Homo sapiens: one gene and its partners. The protein of the gene in region 3 purifies or fractionates together with the protein of the main gene of each other region. This does not show direct contact. Each region holds a gene or a part of one and is shown on either strand. Other genes may lie near its edges.

Evidence for each region.
Region 1: the proteins of HMGCS1 (region 3) and UFM1 fractionate together in Homo sapiens (co-fractionation; one large-scale study listed by BioGRID). This does not show direct contact.
Region 2: the proteins of HMGCS1 (region 3) and ACP6 fractionate together in Homo sapiens (co-fractionation; one large-scale study listed by BioGRID). This does not show direct contact.

Annotation. Positions count from the first base shown.
Region 1 is NC_000013.11:38,359,729-38,363,485, reverse strand, and holds part of UFM1 (ubiquitin-fold modifier 1), read right to left. Parts: intron 3,446-3,757; coding exon of another isoform or gene 3,420-3,445; exon of another isoform or gene 2,776-3,419; coding exon 2,708-2,775; 3' UTR 1-2,707. UniProt on the Homo sapiens protein: Ubiquitin-like modifier which can be covalently attached via an isopeptide bond to lysine residues of substrate proteins as a monomer or a lysine-linked polymer.
Region 2 is NC_000001.11:147,660,458-147,664,114, forward strand, and holds part of ACP6 (lysophosphatidic acid phosphatase type 6), read right to left. Parts: intron 1-3,657. UniProt on the Homo sapiens protein: Hydrolyzes lysophosphatidic acid (LPA) containing a medium length fatty acid chain to the corresponding monoacylglycerol.
Region 3 is NC_000005.10:43,296,304-43,299,960, forward strand, and holds part of HMGCS1 (hydroxymethylglutaryl-CoA synthase, cytoplasmic), read right to left. Parts: intron 2,673-3,657; 5' UTR 2,663-2,672; coding exon 2,215-2,662; intron 1,832-2,214; coding exon 1,706-1,831; intron 864-1,705; coding exon 699-863; intron 1-698. UniProt on the Homo sapiens protein: Catalyzes the condensation of acetyl-CoA with acetoacetyl-CoA to form HMG-CoA, which is converted by HMG-CoA reductase (HMGCR) into mevalonate, a precursor for cholesterol synthesis.

The DNA of each region.
Region 1 (3,757 bases), on a different chromosome or scaffold from region 3:
ATGGACAGGCATTTGCAAGTACTGTTATGTATCACTGAATCACAGGAACAAATTCTGAGAAATGCTTCCTTAGGCAATTTTGTCACTATGTGAACATCAGAATGTACTTGTACAAACCTAGTTGATGTCACCTACTACAAACTTAGGCTATTTGGTATGGCCTATTGCTCCTAGGCTACAAACCTGTAGAGCATGTTACTGTACCTAATACTGTAAACAACTGTAAAATGATGGTAAGTACTTGTGTATCCAAACATAGATAAAGCACAGTAAAAATATAGTAATATGGGACCACGGTCATATATGCGGTCTGTTGTTGGACGAAACATCACTACTATGTCTGTGGCAGATGACTATAAACTAATTTCTCTGACTTATGGTCATTAATCATCTTTGCCCTTTTTTTCTTTACTACATGTATTATATACTGACTCAAAAGGTGTGCTGATTAAGAGCTCTAATAATAAGAACAGACAATATGGTTTACAATATAACAACATGTATTTTCATTAGATATTAATTATAAACCAATAACGCATGTAAACTGAATACAATACTTCAAATCATTCTGCACAAAGAAATTACAGATCACATTTTTTTAATAACAAAATGTCTACTTGTTTAATAAAATGTTTTTAGGAACTTACAATGTTCAAAACCAAAGAATAAAAATATTAAATATATCACTTTATGGCACAGGACAACATAAATTTATTTTTGTAACACAGCAGGCAAATTTTTGTGCTAGAAACAGGATGGAGAAAAATCTAAATTAAAGCAAAAAGTCAGGAAATGGGTGTTCATAAATTCCTGCTTAACTAAGACTCAACATTTATTGTAAGAAACGGGGCCTCTGAACATCAGATTTTGTTTATAAAAATAAAAACTTCCTCCCTGTCTCTGCTAAAAATACAAAAATTAGCTGGGCGTGGTGGTGCATGCCTGTAGTCCCAGCTACTCGTGAGGCTGAGGCAGGAGAAGCCTGGCGACAGAGAGTCTGCCTCAAAAAAAAAAAAACAAAACAAATAAATAAAAATAAAAACTTCCTCAAACATCAGATTTTTTCACCTCAGCAAATACTTTTTCCTTTGATAATTCATAATCCTGCTGTTCATTTGTCACATTTATGAATATCTGGTAATTTCATAAACAACTACCAATGGTACACTTCAAATGCTGATTCTGTTGAATCTTCTTATTTTTTTTCCCCCAATGAACTTAGGGCCTATGATAGAGAAGATACTGAAACATGCTAAGATAATAATTGGTCTTAGAAAGACTTTACAGCAAGTATTTAATGAAAGCCACTACATTTCCAGCTCTAAAAAGAGCCAGACACAATCCCTGCTTCCAGAGTTCACCATTCAGAATACAGGAGGTCAAGCACTGATTCTGAATCATTAATGGGCTTTGATTTCGTCTTTCAAGATTTGCATAGATACTGATTTCTTCCGGAAGGGCAAATAAAATCTTCCCTTACACACATCATTCTTTGGATTCTCATAAGGGGTATTTTGAAGTCTGTATGTTGACAAGGCCAGTAGATACTTTGTTTTCTCTAACTGCCTTCTTCTACTTAAGACTATGTCAAGTATTTTGTTTTCCCTTTCAGTTCTCCCCAACATACACCTTCTGCAGTTTTGTCTATCCAGTCCGCTTTTCTGTAACACTTTGCTACCCCCTTCTGTTCCCCTTCACTGTTTCCTCTGTTGCTTTCCTCCTTAATAGAAGCCTGGTGATCTGGGCTTCCCCATCTTTCCTTTCCTGGCTTCTTATTCACATGGGTGACTGATCTTAGCACTTCCTTAAAAGTTGGGTTTTCAATAAATATAACTCATCAGCACTTCCGATCTGTATTTCCTTGAGCTTTTTTTTGATCTTCAGATCTGTGCAATAATACTCTGTTCCTGAATGCTATTTAGAAATACTATCCTCAAAACACCAGTGGTTTCTTGAAGCTACTTGTTTTAAATGTTGTATCAAAAGAGATTGATAAAGGAATGTATAACTCAGCAAAGGATGCTTCTACTGTAAATTCCCACCATTAAAAGTACTGGATTCTATAGGTCCACCATTAAAAGCTGGTATGGGACACCAATTTATACACATAAGGGTTAGATTAAAATTTTAATTTTTTGGTTGATATTAAACTGAAATTTATATAACTGAGGTCTGAATCTTAAAAAAAGTAAATGATAAAAATTTAATATAGTTAACTGTTCACTGATATGTCTATTCACTTCATCACAACCTATATATTTAATTAAAAATCAAATTATGAGTCTGCAAATCAGATGCTATCAAGCAAATTGCCATCCAGGGTCCATAATTCTTTTTATATTTTTATCTCAGATGAATATATACGATTCAGTAAATTTTAATGTTCCAAATTGTTCTAAAAAAAAAAATTATCAAAAGCTTCCAGTTAACAGTTGGCTAATTCATTTGCCCCCAACGAACTACCTGTTTGTGTTGTGAGGTAGCATCAAAGACTATGATCTTCTGTGACAGTAGTAGCCTTAATTCATACGCATTCCCTCTTCATAGGAAGAGTATGGACAACAAAAAGGGACAGATGAGTCACCTTTCATTAATCATTGACTCCTGGTGTTTTCATAGTATGTTAAATGCCTGATTTCAATTTTACAACAACAAAAAATACCAATATTTATTCTGAAAGGCAATCGTATGTTCCAAGTAGCAGATATTAACAACTTCCAACACGATCTCTAGGAATAATCCGCAGTTCTGAACCATGTTTTAGAAAAACATTTCCTATACAAACAAACAAAACATAAAGTTAGATATCTAAAAATCAAGTTATCTTAATATTCTGACAATTATTAAATATAATAAATGATTTAGTAAACAGTAAAATGGGTACAAAAGCTCAAGCATCATGAGACCCCAATTCCAAGCTTTTTAAGTCTTGTTCCTATTCTCCTATCTTCACAATCCAACATACGCTTAAAATTTAAAATAACACCAGCCATGAAAACTCTGACGAATACTTTCATCAAGTAACTGTGAATAATTTAATCATGAATACTTCCTTCAATACACAATAATATATCTAAGGACAGGAAAAAAAATGTAAATTACTACAAGTGACAAAAATTTAGATACCCTGACATATTTGGGGTCAATTGCCTGATGAGATTTTCTTCATATCAAGGATATGCACATTCAATTTTTAAAGATAATAAAACAAGCAGTATGTTAGAGTTAGCAGTAATTCAAACTACTGTAAAATATTGAAAGTTTCTCGATTAAGAAAAAAAGAAACCTTTGTCTACTAAGTTTAAAGGCATCCATACAATAAAGTGCCTCACGATTTTCAATAAACCTTTTTAATAAAATTATATATTAACAACTACTGAAGTAACAAAAATTTGCAATTTTAAATCACTTCATTTTCTTTATGGCTGAATTTCAACTGCAAGGCCTGTGAAAACAACATAATTTTGTTACAATAAAGAAATACTTTAGAATATAATTTAAAAATAACTACTGCTCTAGAATGAGGTTACATTAAAGCATGCCTAATTTTAAAACTTTAGATTATAAGCCTAAGAGATTACATTTTAAAAATATAAAACTAATTTTAAAAAAGTTTTAGACTTCTTTTTATAAAGTATGAGACTACTTTTACCCTGTCTCCTGGTCAGGACACCAATATATCACCTGTATAAATTTAACAGTTTGAAGATCTGAATGTAGACTCAGCCCCTTGAAATGTAAATGACTATATTTAAAA
Region 2 (3,657 bases), on a different chromosome or scaffold from region 3:
ATAGACCAGTTCCCCTTCCCAATCTACTATGTCCCTCTCAATGTTACCACAGTTCTCCTAGGCCCCAAACCTCAAACCTTTGGCTCCCTGTGGATCCACTATCCCCACACCAAGCCCTGTTGATCACTGCCTAGAAGAAAAGTCCCTCCCAATGGTCCTTCCATTATCTTATTGTAGAATGTAAACCTTATTAGTGCCTGTGACAAACTCCTCCCTTTCACCTGCACAATCCATCTATCCATAGCCAACTAATTAATCTTTTTGGAAAAAATATTTTTATTGCATTTAAATATTTTGTTTTATTTTTAATTGACAAATAATTGTATATTGTATATATTTATGGAGTACAATGTGATGTTTTCATATATATTTACATTTGATATATGATTAACTAATGTAAACAAAATCCATCAGCTCACATACTTTCATTTTTACGTGATGAAAATATGTAAAGTTAACCTTTTAGTAACATAGGCATACATCATTTTATTGCTCTTTACAGAGATTGCATTTTTCACAAATTGAAGGTTTGGAGAACTCTGCATTGAGCAAGTCTATCAGTGCCATTTTTCCAACAGCATGTGCTCATTCATGTCTCTGTGTAAAATCTGGTAATTCTCATAATATTCCAAACTTTTTCATTACTATTAAATCTGTCAAGGTGATCTATGATTTATGATTTGTTTTTCTTTTTGAAATGGGGTCTGGCTCTGTTGCCCAGGCTGGAGTACAGTGGCATGATCTTGGCTCACTGAAACGTCTGCCTCCTGGAGTGCAGTGGCATTACCTTGGCTCATCCTCTCACCTCAGCCTCCCGAGCAGCTGGGACTACAGGCATATACCATCATGCCCAGCTAATTTTTTTTTTTTGAGAGACAGGGTTTTGCCATGTTTCCCAGGCTGATCCTGAACTCTGTGATCTTTGATGTTACTATTTTAACTATTTGGGAGCGCCACAAACCGCCCCCATATAAGATGCCAAACTTAATCAATAAATGTTGTGTGTTTTCTGAGTGCTCTGCTGACTGGTATTTCCCCCATCTCTCTCCCTCTCCTTGAGCCTCCTTATTTCCTGAGACACAACAATATTAAAATTAGTCCAGTTAATAACCCTACAATGGCCTCTAAGTGTTAAGTGAAAGGAAAAGTTTCAAGTTTCTCACTTTAAATCCAAAGCTAGAAATGATTAAGCTTAGTAAGGAAGGCATGTAGAAAGCTAAGATAAGCCAAAACCTATGCCTCTTGCACCAAACAGCCAAGTTATGAATGCAAAGGAAAAGTTCTTGGAGGAAATTAAAAGTACTACTCTGGTGAACACACAAACAATGAGAAAGTGAAACAACCTTATTGATAACATGGAGATATTCAATGCAGAAGAAACAGCCTATATAGGAAGAAGATCCCAGCTAAGACTTTCATAGCTAGAGAGAAAGTCAATGCCTGGCTTCAAAGCTTCAAAGGACAGGCTGATTCTCATTAGGGATTAATGCAGCTGGTTTCCTTAAGGTGAAGCCAAGGCTCATTTACTATTCTGCAAATCCTACAGCCCTTAAGAATTATGCTAAATGTACTCTGACTGTGCTGTATAAATGGAACAACAAAGCCTGCATGGCAGGACATCTGTTTACAGCATGGTCTACTTAATATTTTAAGCCCACTGTTGAGACCTACTGCTCAAAAGAAAAAATTGATTCCTTTCCAAATATTACTGCTCATTGACAATGCACCTAGTCACCCAAAGGCGCTAATGGAGATGTACAAAATTAATATTGTTTTTGTGCCTGCTAACACAATGTCCTTTCTGCAGCCCATGGCCCAAGGAGTAATTTTGACTTTCAAGTCTTTATTATTTAAGAAATACATTTTGTAAGGCTATTGTTGCCCTAGATAGTGATTCCTCTGATGAATCTGGGCAAAGTAAATTGAAAACCTTATGGAAAGAATTCACCATTCTAGATGTCATTAAGAACATTTATAAGGAGGAGGTCAAAATAGCAACATTAAGCGAAGTTTGGAAGATTTGACTCCAACCCTCATGGATGACTTTGAAGATTCAGGCTTCCGTGGAAGAAGTAACTGCAGATGTGATGGAAATAGCAAGAGAACTAGAATTAGATGTGGAACCTTAAGTTCTGACTGAATTGCTGCAATCTCATGATAAAACTTGAATGCATGAGAAGTTACTACAAAGAAGTGGTTCCTTGAGAGGGAATCTAGTCCTGGTGAAGATAGTGTGAACACTGTTGAAATTACAACAATGGATTTATTACATAAACTTAATTGATAAAGCAGTGGCAGAGTTTGAGAAGATTGACTCCAATTTCAAAAGATGTTCTATTGTGGGTAAAATGCTATTAAACTGTGTCATAAGCTACAGAGAAATCTTTCATGAAAGGAAGAGTCTATCAATGTGGCAAACTTTACTGTTGTCTTATTTTTAGAAATTGCCACAGCCACCCCAACCTTTAGCAACTACTACCCTGATCAGTCAGCAGCCATCAACATCAAGGCAAGACCCTCCACTGGCAAAAAGATCATGACTCACTGAAGGCTCAGGTAATCACTAGCACTTTTTAGGAATAAAACATTTTTAAATTAAGGTATGTACATTTTTAGACATGCTATTGCATGATAGGATACAGAAGAGTGTAAACACAACTTTTATATGCACTGGGAAACAAAAAACAACTGTGGGTCTCACTTTATTGCGATATTTGCTTTATTGTGGTGGTCTAGACCTGAATCTGCAATATCTTCAAGGTATGCTTGTCTGTGTAGAATCTAAAGAAGTCAAAGTCACAGAATTAGAGAGTAGAGTGATGGTTATCAGAGGTGGGGGGGTGCAGTAAATGGGGAAAGAGAGATTTTTATCAATGGGTACAAAATTTCAGTTACACAGGAAGAATAAGCTTTAGTGATCTATTGTACAGGATGGTGACTACAATAAATAATAATGCATTGTATGTTTCAAAATCACCTAATTAATCTTGCTAAGCCAGTGTCATCATATCAGTAACTTTTTCCTAATGTCTCAGAGGAAAGCATCTGTCCTTCAAGAACTTCTACATCGTGGCTGAGTGCAGTGGCTCATACCTGTAATCCTAGCACTTTGGGAGGCTGAGGTGGGAGCATCACTTGAGGCCAGGAGTTCAAGATCAGCCTGGGCAACACAGCAAGACCCCATCTCTTAAAAAAATTTTAAAAAAGGACTTCTACCCCCTTTGTCCAGCCCCTGTACTCAGCTTCACTGCCTCTTTCCTCCCCTCCAACCTAGAACCTGCCCACTGTTTCTGCATCTTCTTCCAGCTTGCTTCTCTTGCTTGGAGGGACTCCTGTTCCTATCTGCCCATCACCTTGTCTTCAATGTTCAAGGATAGCTCAAGTCTTACTTCCCTATCACTGACCACTCTGGCTTTTGATGGTTATCTTTTAAATCTGAATTCCTATAACATTGATAACAAAAAAAATTTAACTCAATTTCCTACTACTTTGTTTAGTTTTAAAACTAACATTTGGAAACCTACTATGTCACATATCGTCATATTTATCTTCTACCCTCCCCGAACTATCCCAGGAGAATGGTACTGGGAGCCTCAGATTCTCTTGGCATCTAGGGAGCCCTCCATTCTTCCCAAAGGCATGTGTCAGTCCCACTGG
Region 3 (3,657 bases):
AATGTAACATGTACTTCTTACTGTGGGTCCTAATAAAAAAGTTAGAAAACCACTATTCTGTTAATATATACTGCAAGAATGCTTCTTATCCAGAGCGACTAAATTCACTGATATTTGTCATTGAATATGATTTTTAACCCCTTCTCATAACCTCTAAAAAGCAAAGTTGGACTACAGAAAAAGTATACTTTATGTAATAATGTGTTATGATAGCATTAACTCAAATACTGTCCTTTCAGTGCCTCAACAAATTTCCAGATTAATGATAACAGTAAAAAAACAAATACAAATTCACAGGTCAAGTGCAAAAAGATTATTTTTGGGGTAAGATCACTTTAGTAATTCATTTTCATTAGCTTTCCCTGAATCACAGCTGTAGTCCAAAACCTTGTTAAAATACCTCTCTCAAAAGATGAACAAAATTCAACTTACCTTCTTTTCTCCACTTTGATTTTCTTACAAGGGGTAAACCGACCTAAATATTTTTGCAGAGATACACCTCAGTTCCAAAGTTTACCTCTTCTAGTAAATTACACTTTCCCAGAAACTATGGGAAAATGTTGTTTGGTGAATGAGGAATTAATGGTAAAAGGATATTAAATGAAGAATGCCCACAAAGTAGTTGCCTACCAAAGATACCTAGTACATTAGACTGCTCTCAACTCATACCAAAACCAAGGAAAATGGGTAAAACTTACCTTTCTGCCACTGGGCATGGATCTTTTTGCAGTAGACAGAATAGCAGCGGTCTAATGCACTGAGGTAGCACTGTATGGAGAGTTTTCCATCTACTATAGGATATTCAGATAGCATATCAGGCTTGTAAAAATCATAGGCATGTTGCATATGTGTCCCACGAAGCCCTATTAGAACCAAAAAGGAAGATGTCTATATATTTCTGCTTCTTGATGTCTGTATGTTAATAAGTATACTGCATTATCTAAGGACCTTCCTTAACTATCTGATCAATTCTCACCACTTACAGTAGAGAAATCGCAAGCTGAAGCCAATATAAGTGAAATGATACATAACAGTATCCATGGACAGTCCTAAGACTCCTTTGGTATACAACTTTCCATGTCAGTTTCATAACTCTAACAGTTCACAGTTACTCTACTACACTGAAGACAAATTAAAATTGCCAGTGACTATCAGCAAGTTACTATTTATCATTTGAACCCTACATTAACCCACTTCTCTGTAAAGTGGGGATGACACCACCTACCTCATAAAACTGCTATGAAGATTAAATACAGGCCAGGCATGGTGGCTTACGCCTGTAATCCCAGCACTTTGGGAGGTTGAGGGGGGCGGATCACCTGAGGTCAGGAATTCGATGCCAGCCTGGCTAACATGGTGAAACCCTGTTACTAAAAATACAAAAAATTAGCCAGGCATGGTGGTGTGTGCCTGCAATCCCAGCTACTCAGGAGGCTGAGGCAGGAGAATCACTTGAACCTGGGGGCAGAGGTTGCAGTGAGCCGAGATCGTGCCATTGCACTCCAGCTTGGGCAACAAGAGTGAAACTCGGTCTCAAAAAAAAAAAAAAAGAAAAAAAAACATAAATATGATAACACACATAAAGCTCTTAGCAAGTAGTACCTGCATTTAATGACCATTAAGTAAGCGACAGCTCCTACTTCTATTTTCAAATTTCTCAGCATATTGTGCTAAAAAAAACAAAAATGCTTTCCCAAGCACTTACCTCGTTCAAAAATTAAAGGAGCATTTGGCCCAATTAGCAGAGCTACTGCTCCAACTCCACCTGTAGGTCTAGCATTTCCTGTGGCATATACAGCAATATCTCCTGCAACTACCAGGGCATACCGTCCTGAAAAATATTTTTTGTTATTTCACAAGAAGGAATTCAACACTATAACCAAACATGGAAACTGAAGTCTGTTATATTTTCCCCAGAATATGCTTTTCCCTTCTTTGATAAAGAAAGAAAATGCTCTAATTTTTTTTTAAAATTCATCTGCCAAGGCTCTGTCATCCATCTGACTAAATTTTGAATAGACCATTTGTCCTACAAGATAAGATAACCAATTCACAATTCGGATAATGACAGACAGGTAAAATATCTTTCTTAATATATCCAAACAAGGACAAATTACAAAAGTTTGCGTATTGCATTAATTAAAGTGTCATCTGGGTCTATTGAACCTTAGAAAAAAATTTTGGGGGACGGCGGGGAATAGGCATGTAACATACCATCCCAAGAGCTGGACTCAATCCAGTTAACAGCATTGAAGACAGCAGCTGTGCCTCCATAGCATGCATTAGTTGTGTCGATTCCTTCTATATCTGTATTCCCAGACTCTTCAAACAGCTGCATCAAATTAGTCTTCACAGACTTTGATTTGTCGATGATTGTCTCTGTTCCAACTTCCAGCCGCCCAATGCAATCATAGGAAAGGTTATTTCTCTCCATAAGATTCTGAACCACAGTCATGCAAAGAGAGTTAATATCTTCTCTATCTGTGCAGAAGCCCATCTTGGCCTGGCCCAAGCCAATGGTATACTTTCCAGCATCTACACCATCATATTTTTCCAACTCTGCTTGATCAACATATTGAGAAGGAAAATAGATCTCAAGGGCAACAATTCCCACATCTTTTGGCCAGCAAGCTTCTGCATTCAAAGGAAGTGATCCAGGCATGGTGAAAGAGCTTTAGAAAGGAGAAACAGAAAAAAAATTGTTTTAGGTTATAAGTTGCTGGTTTTCAACTTTGAAATTGAGAAATAGATATTAAGAGTTTAGCAATCACCTGAAGTATTAGTTTCTTTAAGTTTAGTATTTAGGGCACTCAATTGTGTACATGTGAAGTAGCAATTATTATATGAATGGAATATTATCATTTAAAATTATAGTCTTTTAGAAAGGCTTCCATTTTATTCAAAATTGGGCATCTCTAGATTTAAAACATGATTATTAGAGGTAAACAACACTCAAATAAGATTTTCTACATTGTAAAGAACTGTAAGATAAAATACAATGATAATTTAGAAATATGGCTGACAAATCAGAATTACCTGACCACCCGAAAGTTTTAATAAATTAGGCCGGGCGTGGTGGCTCATGCCTGTAATCTCAGCACTTTGGGAGGCTGAGGCAGGCGGATCACAAGGTCAGGAGATCGAGACCATCCTGGCTAACATGGTGAAACCCCGTCTCTACTAAAAATACAAAAGAATTAGCCGGGCGTGGTGGCAGATGCCTGTAGCCCCAGCTACTCAGGAGGCTGAGGCAGGAGAATGGCGTGAACCCGGGAGGAGGAGCTTGCAGTGAGCAGAGATCATGTTACTGCACTCCAGCCTGGGTGACAGAGCAAGACTCCGTCTCAAAAAAAAAAAAAGAAAAAGTAAAAATCAATCAATCAATCAATCAATCAATCATGTATTCATCATAGATAAACCAGTCCTCTTTTAAAAAAGGGACTAAAAAGTAGTGTCTAGATTTACTTACCAATAGCAACAAAAATCACTAGCTACTCAAGACCATTGTTGGGCATTTAACTTACCAGAGCTTCAGCTTCTTTAACAGGTTGTATTAGTCAGGAAAAGAAAAATTACTATAGATATTTCAAACAGAGGGGAGTTTTAATGCAGGGAAATAGCTACAAACTTGTTGGCTGGGCTGGAAGAACAAAGCGG